Linked DNA regions of Homo sapiens. The protein of the gene in region 1 interacts with the protein of each later gene in a biochemical or structural test. Each region holds a gene or a part of one and is shown on either strand. Other genes may lie near its edges.

Evidence for each region.
Region 2: the proteins of TAB1 (region 1) and TRIM26 form a complex in vitro, tested with the Homo sapiens proteins (one study listed by BioGRID).

The regions. Positions count from the first base shown.
Region 1 is NC_000022.11:39,423,609-39,430,779, forward strand, and holds part of TAB1 (TGF-beta-activated kinase 1 and MAP3K7-binding protein 1), read left to right. Parts: intron 1-3,094; coding exon 3,095-3,317; intron 3,318-4,412; coding exon 4,413-4,575; intron 4,576-6,406; coding exon 6,407-6,614; 3' UTR 6,615-7,171. UniProt on the Homo sapiens protein: Key adapter protein that plays an essential role in JNK and NF-kappa-B activation and proinflammatory cytokines production in response to stimulation with TLRs and cytokines.
Region 2 is NC_000006.12:30,183,950-30,189,572, forward strand, and holds the end of TRIM26 (tripartite motif-containing protein 26), read right to left. Parts: intron 5,585-5,623; coding exon 5,469-5,584; intron 5,251-5,468; coding exon 5,218-5,250; intron 2,610-5,217; coding exon 1,927-2,609; 3' UTR 506-1,926; downstream 1-505.

The DNA.
Region 1 (7,171 bases):
AATCAATCAATATCATGAGGAAAAAGTCTTCTTTAAAATTTGAAAATTAATTTTTATTTCAGTAGCTTTTGAGGTACCAGTATTTTTTTGTTATAGGGATGAATTATGTAGTGGTGAATTCTGAGATCTTAGTAAACCAGTTATTCCAGTAGTGTACATTGTAAGTAATGTATAGTGTTTTATAGTGTACATTGTAACTAATGTATAGTGTTTTATAGTGTACATTGTAACTAATGTATAGTGTTTTATAGTGTACATTGTAACTAATGTATAGTGTTTTATAGTGTACATTGTAACTAATGTATAGTGTTTTATAGTGTACGTTGTAACTAATGTATAGTGTTTTATAGTGTACATTGTAACTAATGTATAGTGTTTTATCCCTAGCACCACTGCCATCCTCCCGCCTTGAGTCTCTAAAGTTCCATTATATCACTCTGTATGCCTGTGCATTCCCATCATTTAGCTCCCACTTACGAGTGAGAACATAGTTTGTGGTTTTCCACTCCTGTGTTACTTAGAATAATGGCCTTCATCTCCATCCAAGTTGCTGCAAAAGACATTCATTCTTTCCTTTTACTGGCTGAGTAGTATTCCATAGTTTATAGATACATTTTCTTTATCTGCTCATTAGTCAATGGCCACTTAGGCTGGTTCCACATCTTTGCAATTGTGAATTGTGCTGCTATAAACATACGTGTGCAAGTATCTTTTTCATATAATGACTTATTTTCCTTTAGGTAGATGCCCAGACTGCTGGATTGAATGCAGATCTACTTCGAAAAAGTCTCAAGTGCCTAACTATCCCCTGTTCCCTGTGTTCTGATTTCTTTTTTTTTTTTTTTTTTTTTTTTGAGATGGAGTCTTGCTCTGTTGGCCAAGCTGGAGTGCAGTGGTGCAATCTCGGCTCACTGTAACCTCCACCTCCCGGGTTCAAGTCATTCTTCTGCCTCAGCCTCCTGAGTAGCTGGGACTACAGGCATGTGCCACCACCACACCCGGCTAATTTTTGTATTTTTAGTAGAGATGGGGTTTTGCCTTTTTGGCCAGGCTTATCTTGAACTCGTAACCTCAGATGATCCACCTGCCTTGGCCTCCCAAAGTTCTGGGATTATAGACATGAGCCACTGCGCCCAGCCTGTGTTCTGATTTCTTTACCTGTTATATAAGCTTACCATTCCTTCCAGTAGCCTTATAACATAGAGGGACAGGGGCTTATTTCCAGGTAGAGTAGGGAATTTGGGGTCCACGGAGTTCAGGTTCTTGCCAGAAGTGACGTTGCTGCTTAGTGTTGAAACTGAGCCCACCAGGACCAGGTGCAGGTCATTTCCTATTACCTGTCCCTGCCCTCCTGCCCCGCCCAAAAGAAACTTTATGATGGTGAGAAAGTGATACATATTCAGTGGGAACTGTGCTCCCATACCCCTACAACCATTCTGTTTTTCACTGTCAAAACAGTACTCAATAAATTACATGAGATTCGGCTGGGCGTGGTGGCTCACGCCTGTAATCCCAGCACTTTGGGAGGCTGAGGCGGGAAGATCACTTTAGGTCAGGAGATCGAGACCATCCTGGCTAATACGGTGAAACCCCATCTCTACTAAAAATACAAAAAAAAAAAAAAATTATCTGGTGCATAGTGACGCACGCCTGTAATCCTAGCTACTCGGGAGGCTGAGGCGGGAGAATTCTTGAACCTGGGAGATGGAACTTGCAGTGAGCTGAGATCACAGCACTGCACTCCAGCCTGGTCAACACAGTGAGACTCTGTCTCAAAAAAAAAAAAATTACATGGGATTCAACATTTTCTTATATAATAATGAAAATAGGCTTTGTGCTAGATGATTTTGCCCAGCCGTAGGCTAATAGAAGTGTTCTGAGCACATTTAAGGTAGGCTAGGCTAAGTGATGATGTTCAGTAGATTAGGTGCATTAAATGCTTTTTCTTTTCTTTTTTTTTTTTTGAGATGGAGTCTCGCTCTGTCACCCAGGCTGGAGTGCAGTGGCTCGATCTGGGCTTACTGATCACCTCCCGGGTTCACGCCATTCTGCCTCAGCCTCCCGAGTAGCTGGGACTACAGGCACCCGCCACCACGCCCGGCTAATTTTTTGTATTTTTAGTAGAGATGGGGTTTCACCGTATTAGCCAGGATGGTCTCGATCTCCTGACCTCATGATCGGCCTGCCTCAGAATCCCAAAGTGCTGAGATTACAGGTGTGAGCCACCACGCCCGGCCAAATGCTTTTTCAACTTACGATATTTTCTTTTTTTTTTTTTTTTTGAGACAGAGTCTTGCCCTGTTGGCCAGGCTGGTCTCGGCTCCCTGCAACCTCCGTCTCCTGGGCTCAAGCAATTCTCCTGCCTCAGCCTCTCAAGTTGCTGGGATTACAGGCATGTGCCACCATGCCCAGCTAATTTTTGTATTTTTAAGTAGAGACGGGGTTTCAACATGTTGGCCAAGCTGGTCTCGATCTCCTGACCTCTGGCAGTCCTCCCACCTCAGCCTCCCAAAGTGCTGGGATTACAGGCGCAAGCCACTGTGCCCGGTCAACTTATGATATTTTCAACTTACAGTGGGTTTGTCAGGACATAGTCCCATCCTAAATTGAGGAACATCTGTATACTAGACAGGGACTTCTCTGAGGTCAGGGACCCTGTTTTCATTCTGTATCCCCAGTTCCTGACAAAATCCTAGCATGTATAACATCGCCTACAACAAGTTTGTTCCAGGAAAGAGTGTTTCATAATAATGACACTTGCTACTAGGCTTTTTAGTGGCTGGCAGAGTGCTCTCACACCACTGTTAGTTAATACTCGTATTCACCCAGTCAAATGGATGTTCTCCCCATCCTAGAGGTGTGCACCCAACAATTAGAGCAATCACAAGAGCACACACTTCCTAATGAGAAAGTTCCAGAAGGATTATCCTGAATACCTTGAAAGGCTCAGATTGCAAACTTGGCTGGCAGGCATTTCCTTCACCTGCTGGGCTGTTGACCACTGAATCTCCTGATTTTAGGCTCCAAGATTATGGCCCATGCCCCCCAGGCCGCACCTCGTTCCTTACCAGGTTCTTCCTACCCCCTCCCCCAGGAGATTGCTGCGATGATTGACACTGAGTTTGCCAAGCAGACCTCCCTGGACGCAGTGGCCCAGGCCGTCGTGGACCGGGTGAAGCGCATCCACAGCGACACCTTCGCCAGTGGTGGGGAGCGTGCCAGGTTCTGCCCCCGGCACGAGGACATGACCCTGCTAGTGAGGAACTTTGGCTACCCGCTGGGCGAAATGAGCCAGCCCACACCGAGCCCAGCCCCAGGTACGTGTGCTGTGCAGACAGGCAGTGCCTGGGGATGCCATCTGGGGGCCAGAGGTGGGTGCAGAGCCCCCGAGGCTGCTTGAAACGGAGATGGAGTCAGGAGGCCTGGCTCTGAGTGGCTCTAATTCAGGTTCTCTGATTTTTAGCCTCTCTGAGCTGAGTGTTGATTTTTGCTCTTTTGTCTGTAAAATGAGGTTAATACCACCTGCCCCGGCAACCTCCCAGAACCTGAGTGCCCCAGCAAGCAATTCACAGAGCCCTGAAGCCACATAATAGAGATGATGGCCACCACTGATTGAGTGCCTCCCTTGTGCCAGGCACACAGCCTGCCTTATTCCCTTCAGTCCTCATGGGCAACCCTAAAGACAGGTGGTACCCCTGTTTTCCAGAGAGGGAAACTGAGGCTGAAGAATGAAGGGACCTGGAAGAGATTAGGCATGTGGACAGATGGTCAGGCCCCAAGGCCTGTCTGTCCCTGGGCTGCACTGGAGCAGGGCAGGGAGAAGGACGTTTTGCTTTTTACCTATGTCATTCTTCAACCAAGTTCTCAGGAAAAGAGGTGGCTGCTCTTTCCCGTGCTCCCCCCAGTGCTGCTCAGCACTAAGACCTTCGGTTCCTGAGGGCTGCATTTCTTTTTCTTTGCTTTAAACAAGCAAATCTTAGATAAAGCTCAGGCATCCACAGACAGATTTGTTCTCCCATGGACACCAGGGTTATTGGAGTTTCTCTGGCCTGTTTTTATTGCAACCATATTTTTATTGGGTCAGCCTCAACTGGGAGCAAACTTATCCTCTGAATTAAAGCATCCATGGGAAGCCAGGCAGTAACCCTTTCCTTGAGGCAACTCGAGCACCAGCAGGATTTACTGCTATAAGGAGTTCTCAGCCCGGCCTGGAAGAGTCTCTGACAAGGGACACTCCTCCTGAGCTGTCCCAAGGGGCAGGGGGCCCCACTGGGCTTGGGGAGCCAGGCATGGCCGCCACCCACACTCAGCCCTCAGGCACCACCCCATCAGGCCATGGAGCAGCTATGCCCCTGCTACCCTGGGTTTCTCCTCAGCTGCTGCCTGAGGCCCCCACTCTCTTCCTCCCAAAGCTGCAGGAGGACGAGTGTACCCTGTGTCTGTGCCATACTCCAGCGCCCAGAGCACCAGCAAGACCAGCGTGACCCTCTCCCTTGTCATGCCCTCCCAGGGCCAGATGGTCAACGGGGCTCACAGTGCTTCCACCCTGGACGAAGCCACCCCCACCCTCACCAAGTAAGTCCCTTCCCCACTGAGCCACCCCCAGCCCTGTCACCCCCGTGTGTGTCCTGTGGCACCAGGACAGAAATGGCCATGGGGCCAAGGCTTGTGGATGAGATGCCCTGGGGTCTGGAATTCCCCAGCTCCGTGCCTGGTGAGGGAGGTCTCCCTAGAAACTGAGGCAGGTGCGATTTTTGGTCAGGTGGCTGATGGTCCCAGCCTACTTCTCGTATTTTCTTGTGGGCCCATCTGCTGGTTTCATTCAGTGGAAGGTTTCCTTTCATTCCTCACCTCGGTGTGATGTGGGGTGGCTTCCTGTGGTGTCCTTGCTTGAGGACATTGTCTGGCCTGTACTGGCTTGTCAGAGCCCATGCTTTCTGGCTAATGTGCTTGATTTTAGCTTTGAAGTGAGTTCTCTGGTTTTGGGGCAGGGGGCGAGGTAGAGGCAACAGCCTGAGGGGGATGCGGCCAGGCCCCCTCCAGCCGCAGACCTGCCTGACAGGTCTGGAGTACACCCCACCCCCTTCACTTCCTTAGAATGTGCACTCCCCACACCAGGGGACCCAGATCTGGTTTCCACATTCCAGCCCTGCATGGAATGATAGAGATGCCACACCCAGCCCACTCTGAGGATGGAGTGCGCAGGATGTGGCCAATTAGAAAGGCCCTGGAGGGGGGTGGGCGGCCTGCATGCCTCTGCCCCATCAGGGGGCCTTCCTTTCCCTCTGCCTCTGGGTTGTGGATGCTGCGACTGCTGCCACGGGGCTAGAAAGGCCTGCCAGGCCGAGCAAGCTCCTTGGGCATCCTGAGTGCAGTAGGGGTGGCCTCTCCAGCACCCCTGCCGGGCTGCCTGGAGGAGTCCTCCAGCTGTGTCCACAAAGCAGAGTGTGAGCGCTGTGGCCCTAGACAAGGCAGGACAACCCACTCTCCTCCCCTGCCTGTGTTCCTCACTCCTTTCAGCGTCTGAGCCATAGTTGGTCCCACCATGGGCTGGCCCTGTGCTGGTGCTGGGCAGCGCTAACAGGCAGTTCCAGCTGTGATAGAAGGTGGGTGCCCGTCCCCACCCAGCTGATGAGAAGAGATTGAAGGGGAGGGGGGCGAAGGAAGGTTTTCTAGAAGAAGACACCTTGCCCGCCCTGCTGAGTAGGTCCTGGGTTGGGACGGGTTTAGAGAGATGGTAATGGACAGTCGGTGGTTCAGCTTCACCCGAGGAACTTCCTGTGATGACGGGAGTGCTCGCGTGGGTGCTGTCCTGTCACGGCGTCTCTAGCCACTTGTGGCTATTAGACGCTTGAACTGAGTGTTCCATTTTCTTTCCATTTTTTTGAGACGGAGTTTCACTCTTGTTGCCCAGGCTGGAGTGCAATGGCAAAATCTTGGCCCACTGCAACCTCTGCCTCCCAGGTTCAACCAATTCTCCTGCCTCAACCTCCCGAGCAGCTGGGATTACAGGCACACGCCACCATGCCTGGGTAAATTTTTTTTGTATTTTTAGTAGAGATGGGGTTTCACCGTGTTGGCCAGGCTGATCTCGAACTCCTGACCTCAGGTGATCCACCCGTCTTGGCCTCCCAAAGTGCTGGGATTACAGGCATGAGCCACCGCGCCCAGCCCCATTTTCTTTACCTTTAGTTCATTTAAGTAGCCACATGCATCTGGTGCTTTAAAATTTGACTTTTTATCTGTTCCTAAGATCATCTGGCTGGGCCAGCTCCTATGGTCACCTCTGCCAGAAAGGCCTGTGGCCCAAGAGGCTGGTAGAGGCAGGGGCCATTCTGTCCCCACTCTGCCCCAGGCCCCTTGACCCGGCTGCTTCTGATTGACTCCCTCCCCTGTTGTCCTGCAGCCAAAGCCCGACCTTAACCCTGCAGTCCACCAACACGCACACGCAGAGCAGCAGCTCCAGCTCTGACGGAGGCCTCTTCCGCTCCCGGCCCGCCCACTCGCTCCCGCCTGGCGAGGACGGTCGTGTTGAGCCCTATGTGGACTTTGCTGAGTTTTACCGCCTCTGGAGCGTGGACCATGGCGAGCAGAGCGTGGTGACAGCACCGTAGGGCAGCCGGAGAATGCAGCCCAAGCAGGGCCTGGCATGGGGCAGGACAGGGTCCAGCCTTTTCCTAACATCTGCCTGTGCCACAACGGCCAGCAGGTGCCCCATCCTCTGCCCACAGCAGACTCTGTCCCATGGCTCTCCGGGCAGTAGAGTGTGTGAGTGCAGACTGGACCTGTGGTTCATACCTTGTCACCACCCGGGAAGCTGAAGGCCACTTCCTCCCAGATGGCCTCAGCCAGGACCATCGCCCTTTCTCAGAGCAGAGGGCCAGGTATAGAAACCGCAGTGGGCCTGCAAGCCGCCCGAGCCTCCCCAGCAGCCTCCTACAGAGCAGGAAGAGGCGCCCTGTGAACCCTGAGTGTTGCAGGCCCAGCAGACCCTGCTGTCCCAAGCCCACCCCTCCTCCCACCATCACCTCCCTCACCTCGGGACAGTAGCCCTCCACTTCTCCAGCCTCTCAGCCCTGTGCTCCTGCATCCAGAGTGGAACCCAGGCTGGTGTCCGCATCTGTCCCTGGGCCCCACCCCTGGACCTGCCTTGGTTGTGTCATCTGTTGTA
Region 2 (5,623 bases), on another chromosome or scaffold:
CAGAGTGAGACTCCATCTCAAAAAAAAAAAAAAAAAAAAAAAAAAAAAAAAAAAAAAAAAAAAAAATCAGAAAGGACAAGAAAAACAGTTGACTGTGTTAGGATGCAAGGCTGAATCTCTGCACATTCTATTTCCTCTGAGGCAGTGCTTATTTTCCAAGGAAGAATTTTTGGGTGTGCTATACTGGAGGTCTCCCTTCTCAGGGAGAGTCATCACTTGCTCCAAAACGCTGGACCTCAGCTCAAGGGCACCACTGCAGGAGGAATAAAAAGGTGGAGCCACGCAACAACTCGTCTGTGTTCCGCAGTAGGCTCTTTTTGAGGGACTTCCAGAAATGACAGCATGTGTGCAGAGAACAGAAAGCAAAGTTACACTGTTACAGAAGGCACAGAAGGAAAACCTTCGGCTACTGCTATCAGTGGAATTTCTCTGTAGCCAGACTGAGGTCTGGTGGCATTTGAGATATAATATAGATATAGACCTACAAATACAGATCTCCAGGCTGTTCATTCAACAAGTCTTTATTGAGCACCTACTCTGTGCCCAGCACTGCACTAGGTGCCATGAGAATACAAGAGTAGTATAAGATGTTATCCGCCCTCCAGGAGCTTACAAAACTAGAGGCAGAAATAAGATGTACATGTGACTCAGGCAGCATGTGACACACACAAAGTGGGCAGCTCTGAGACAATGGTGGTCAAGTGACCACTGAGGCCCAGAGCCGTTGGAACAGTCTCTTAGAACAGGGTGGAGGACTTAAAACTTGGATGAACAGGGGCTGGCAGAGCACTTGGAATGGGTAAGGACAAGACTGGGAGATCAATTTGGCTGGAGCAGGGGAGCTTGTGTTAAACTGTGATGATGAGGGGCACCTGGACAGAGGTTGGGTCCGTGGGCAATGAGAAGACATGTTACTCCCTCTCTTGACATGAAGACCTGGTGGGCTTGTGGCCTCCTGCTGCCTTCCTTTCCCTGTCTTCCCATCTCCACTCTCTCCTAGGAAAGTGGAACCTGGATGCTGGTAGGGCCAGAGACAGAGGCTTAACACCCTGCTGGGGAACCCGGTCAGAACTCCCGAGGCAGGAGAGGTTCTGCTCCACTGGATGTTTGTCTTGGTGTTTTTGGATGTGCTGATCAAGAGCAAGATGTTCTGGATTCTTAAAACTCCCCTCACAAGGACCAATCTAGAGATAATTTATTGATCAGTGATCACAGCTTGTACCCCAAAGCCGTGTATGTCTGGATCCTTCCCTAAGACCACAGATAGCTCCAGGGAGTCCCACCTCCTTGGCTATGGAAATATGCTCAGCCCTGGTTTCAGAGAAGCCTGGACTCCACTCTGGACCCCATGAGATGATATGCGCTGGTACTCCAGGCTTTAAATGGCCTGGGAAGCCTCAGTGGATTTTGTTTATTTTCAGCATTGCCATGTATGCTTAACTCTGAGTTGGGGTGGGGTAGGTCTGTTTAAAATGCCAGGGAAGGTGGGCAGCAGAGTGGATTTGTGCAAGAAGGAACCTGGGGGGTTTAAGGACAGCAAAATGATCTTAGGCGTAATTGACTGGTTTTTCTGAGGTCTTGCCACACTGGGCAAGAAAATGCTGCATCGGGCCCTTATTCCAGAGAGTGCAGAGCTGGGGCCAAGGTCGTGGTCAAAAAGGAAAGGAGCCCTCATGGACTCCAGGGTCAGAAGTTCCCTCGGGAAACCAGCAGGAGGTGGGAAAAGAGCCCCATTAGGGCAGTAGATGGAGCAACAGCACTGAGTGAGATTTCAGGGGGCCACAGCAATGGGGAGGTGGCTACCAGTGGATATGGGGTCCCCTGCTCCAGGTGCTTAGGCCAGGCATCCCGTCCCCCCATTGAGAGTCCTGGAATTCCAAAGAAGTGAAGCATCTGAGGGTTGGGGCTGGGGGCAGATGTCAGGGCTCAGGGTCTTAGCAGGAGGCGTGTTCCTGGCCACTTGAGCCACAGGAAGGGGACCAGGCGCCGGGTGAAGGTGGCAGTGAAGGTGTAGATGAGTTCCTGTGACTCTGCGTTGGTGAAAGTCACGGTGCCCCCTTCATAATCCAGGGCGATGCCCACTCTCCGGGGCCGCAGTGCTGGGAAAAGCTCAGCCTCGGGGCTGGTGTTGGCCCAGATGCCGGAGGAGGAGAGGCGCAGCGCCCACACGCCATCCTCTGGCCGCAGGGAGAGGTCTCCCTTCCTCTTCACAGAGTCTCTAGCCACCCCCACCATGCAGCTTTCCAGAACTTCCTCCTCTTCCTCCTCCTCTTCTTCCTCTTCATCGCCCAACGATTCCTCATCTTCGTCCGTTTCCCAGTCGTCATATCCATCCCCATAGCCGGCCTCCTCTTCCTCCTCCTCCTCTTCTCCCTCTTCCTCCTCATCCCCCTCTTCTTCATCCTCAGACCAGCCCTCCCTCTCCACTTCCACTTCCCAGTAGACCTTGCCCCAGGTGAAGCCCTTGCTGCCTAGCACCCCAGGCTCACAGTCAAACTGCTGGGGGTGCAGGTAGGCACTCTTGTACAGGCTGGTGTAGGTCACGCACTTCCAGTCCTCTGACAGCTGCAGGTACCCACTGGCCGACTGTGGGTCCAGGGTGACGCTCACTGTGGGGACAAGGGAAAAAAAAAAAAACAGCATCACTGTTTTGTTTTGTTTTTTAAGTCAGAGGGAATAAAATTTATTTTGGCAGATAGCGTTAAACAAAATTAAAGTTGCATACATTAGTAATATAACTCAACATCCTTAATTTGGTATAAGTGTGACACATTTTCTGGCTTTGTATTCTGCTAAATCACCATAACTAAACTGCTTTATAAACATGATATACTGAAATTTAACTTGACTGTTTTCGCTTACGCTCTGATTCCAAACAAAACTTTTCATAAGCTTCCTCTATCTCTGGATCTCTGGGTCCAACTCATCATTAATATCATCCAAGTGTGGATCACCAGTCCCTGAAAAATCTGTTCCATTTTCTTCATAATCCAGAAAAAAAGTCCTCTTTTTCAAGTAACTCTTGATATGCTTCTTGGTAATCCGGATCAGCTGCAGTGAAAGGAACACTATGAAACACAATAACTATGTGAATGACCACTATAAAATGTTGGTTCATTCACATAGTAATTGGGATCTTTTTTGGCTGTTGTATTTCTGTATGATGAAGTTGCATGGACTCTACCCCAATTACTGCACTGGGGTTCTACAAGCTTCAAGAGCATCTGTTTCATGTCTCTGCCACAGCTTGCATCTATAACAACATTTTCAATTTCCTGAATAATTTCTTCCATATCAGTCCTTCCTTTTCCTTCCAAGAATCTTCCAAAACTGACCCTGTCAACTTCAGCAATTTTATTGCACAAATTAAGCTGTCATCCACGGGATTAGAAAAGAGGGCATTCAGGCATTCGGCAACTCCTGAAGACCAACCTGAAGAATATCTGCCCTTGTAACCTGTCCATTTGTTCCTCTGATCTCCAGGTTATGATAAAGCTCTCCCAGAAAGGGTACAAATGCATGAAATTGTTTTGGAGTAACTTCATCCCCTTTTGCAGCTTGATCTTTAATGTCATATTCAGTCCGACATCTTTGAAGTAGAAATTGGCGGAAGGTGCTACTCTCTGTGCTAACTGTCAGATGATGTCAGGTAATTACACAGGTGAGCTCCCATGTAAGAGAAATTTGGGGCTGGGCACGGTGGCTCACGCCTATAATCCCAGCACTTTGGAAGGCCGAGGCGGGTGGATCACAAGGTCAGGAGATCGAGACCATCCTGGCTAACATGGTGAAACCCCATCTCTACTAAAAATACAAAAATTAGCCGGGCATGGTGGTGGGCACCTGTAGTCCCAGCTACTTAGGAGGCTGAGGCAGGAGAATGGCGTGAACCTGGGAGGCGGGGCTCGCAGTGAGCTGAGATCACACCACTACACTCCAGCCTGGAAGACAAAGCAAGACTCCATCTCAAAAAAAAAAAAAAAAAAAAGGCCGGGCGCGGTGGCTCACGCCTGTAATCCCAGCACTTTGGGAGGCCGAGGCGGGTGGATCACGAGGTCAGGAGATCGAGACCATCCTGGCTAACACGGTGAAACCCCGTCTCTACTAAAAATACAAAAAATTAGCCGGGCGAGGTGGCGGGCGCCTGTAGTCCTAGCTACTCGGGAGGCTGAGGCAGGAGAATGGCGTGAACCCCAGGAGGCGGAGCCTGCAGTGAGCCGAGATTGCGCCACTGCACTCCAGCCTGGGCGACAGCGAGACTCCGTCTCAAAAAAAAAAAAAAAAAAAAAAAAAGAAATTTGGGACAGATGTGGCCTCTGAGTTCCACAAGTTCTTGCAAAGCATCATCTGTTGTAACACAAGCATTCAGGGTCTCTGTAAACTGTTCAATTTCAGTTTCAAAACTACCAGCCTGCTCTGTAAGATGGTTCAAGAAACCCTGAACAGGTACTGACAGAGTGGGATAATCCTCACCATCATCCTCATAGGATTCTCTATAATTAGAATAACCTGATAGGTAAAATTTGACGGTATTCACAGACAGCTCAGACATTAATAAAGAAGCTACAACCACCTAAGGTTTAACCACTGCTAACTCAGTTCTGCTATGGGATTTTATCCTGTGAACTAGATGAAGCTCTCAGGGCCTCGTTTGCTCCCAGACAGGCCGACCTCCTCAATGGTTCTCACGAAAGCAAGTGTGAAAGTGAGCCAGGAGGAGACCACCAGTCTTCACAATCCAAGGGGCACCATTCACATCTTGGTCTATGTGGATGGCGCTCCTTGGTGGTTGGTATGCAGTGTACAACCTAACTGCAGGGCTGAGAGGGGGCACAATAGTGGGGCCTGTGGTGGATATGGCCTCTGGTCTTAGGTTGCCCCTGCTGTTTGCTCTGAATATAGGAGCCATGCAGCCAGGAAGATGAGAGAAAGCTCGGCCACAGGAAAAGGACTGGTGGTAGGACCTGTGAGGATAGGAAAAAGAAAAGCAAACACAGGGCAGAGAAGGATCAGACTAGCAAGCAGAGGCCTCTACTGCAGACTAAAGAGTAGGCTGATTAGAAAGTGCAAAGAGGGAGGGGGGCTTCTATTGTGCAGCTGGGAAATTCTTCCTGTTGCAAAAGGGGCTACCTGGGGGAAAAGTGAGCAGTCAGAATCTCTGCAGGCGGAGTTTTCTATATTTGATGTACATCTGGGAAACACCCTCTAGACACTCACCTGTCTTATATTCCAAGTCTCTCAGCAGCTTCCCTGGGGAGAAAAAAGGACAGCAATGACTCAAGTCCCGAAAATTTATGAGCCCATTTCTTGCTCGGGCAGTATCAATTTCCTGATAGGGATCCATGTCTAAGACAAGAGGCCCTCAGAAGAGTGAGGATCGACAAGGTGATGGAAAGGAGCTGGGTGCGCTCTTTCTACGAGGTAGCCCTGCTCTGACTCCCACCCTTTGTGCGCTCCCCAACCCTTACCCTGGAATTCCCTCAGGCCTCGTTGCAGAGAGAGGAGTTTATCTGAGAATTCTCCGGTCTTTTTTTTAACCACTCGAGCAATGGGTTTCCCAACCCAGAACTTCTTCCGTGGATACCTAAGAAGATGACATACATAACAAGCTGTTACTCAGCTC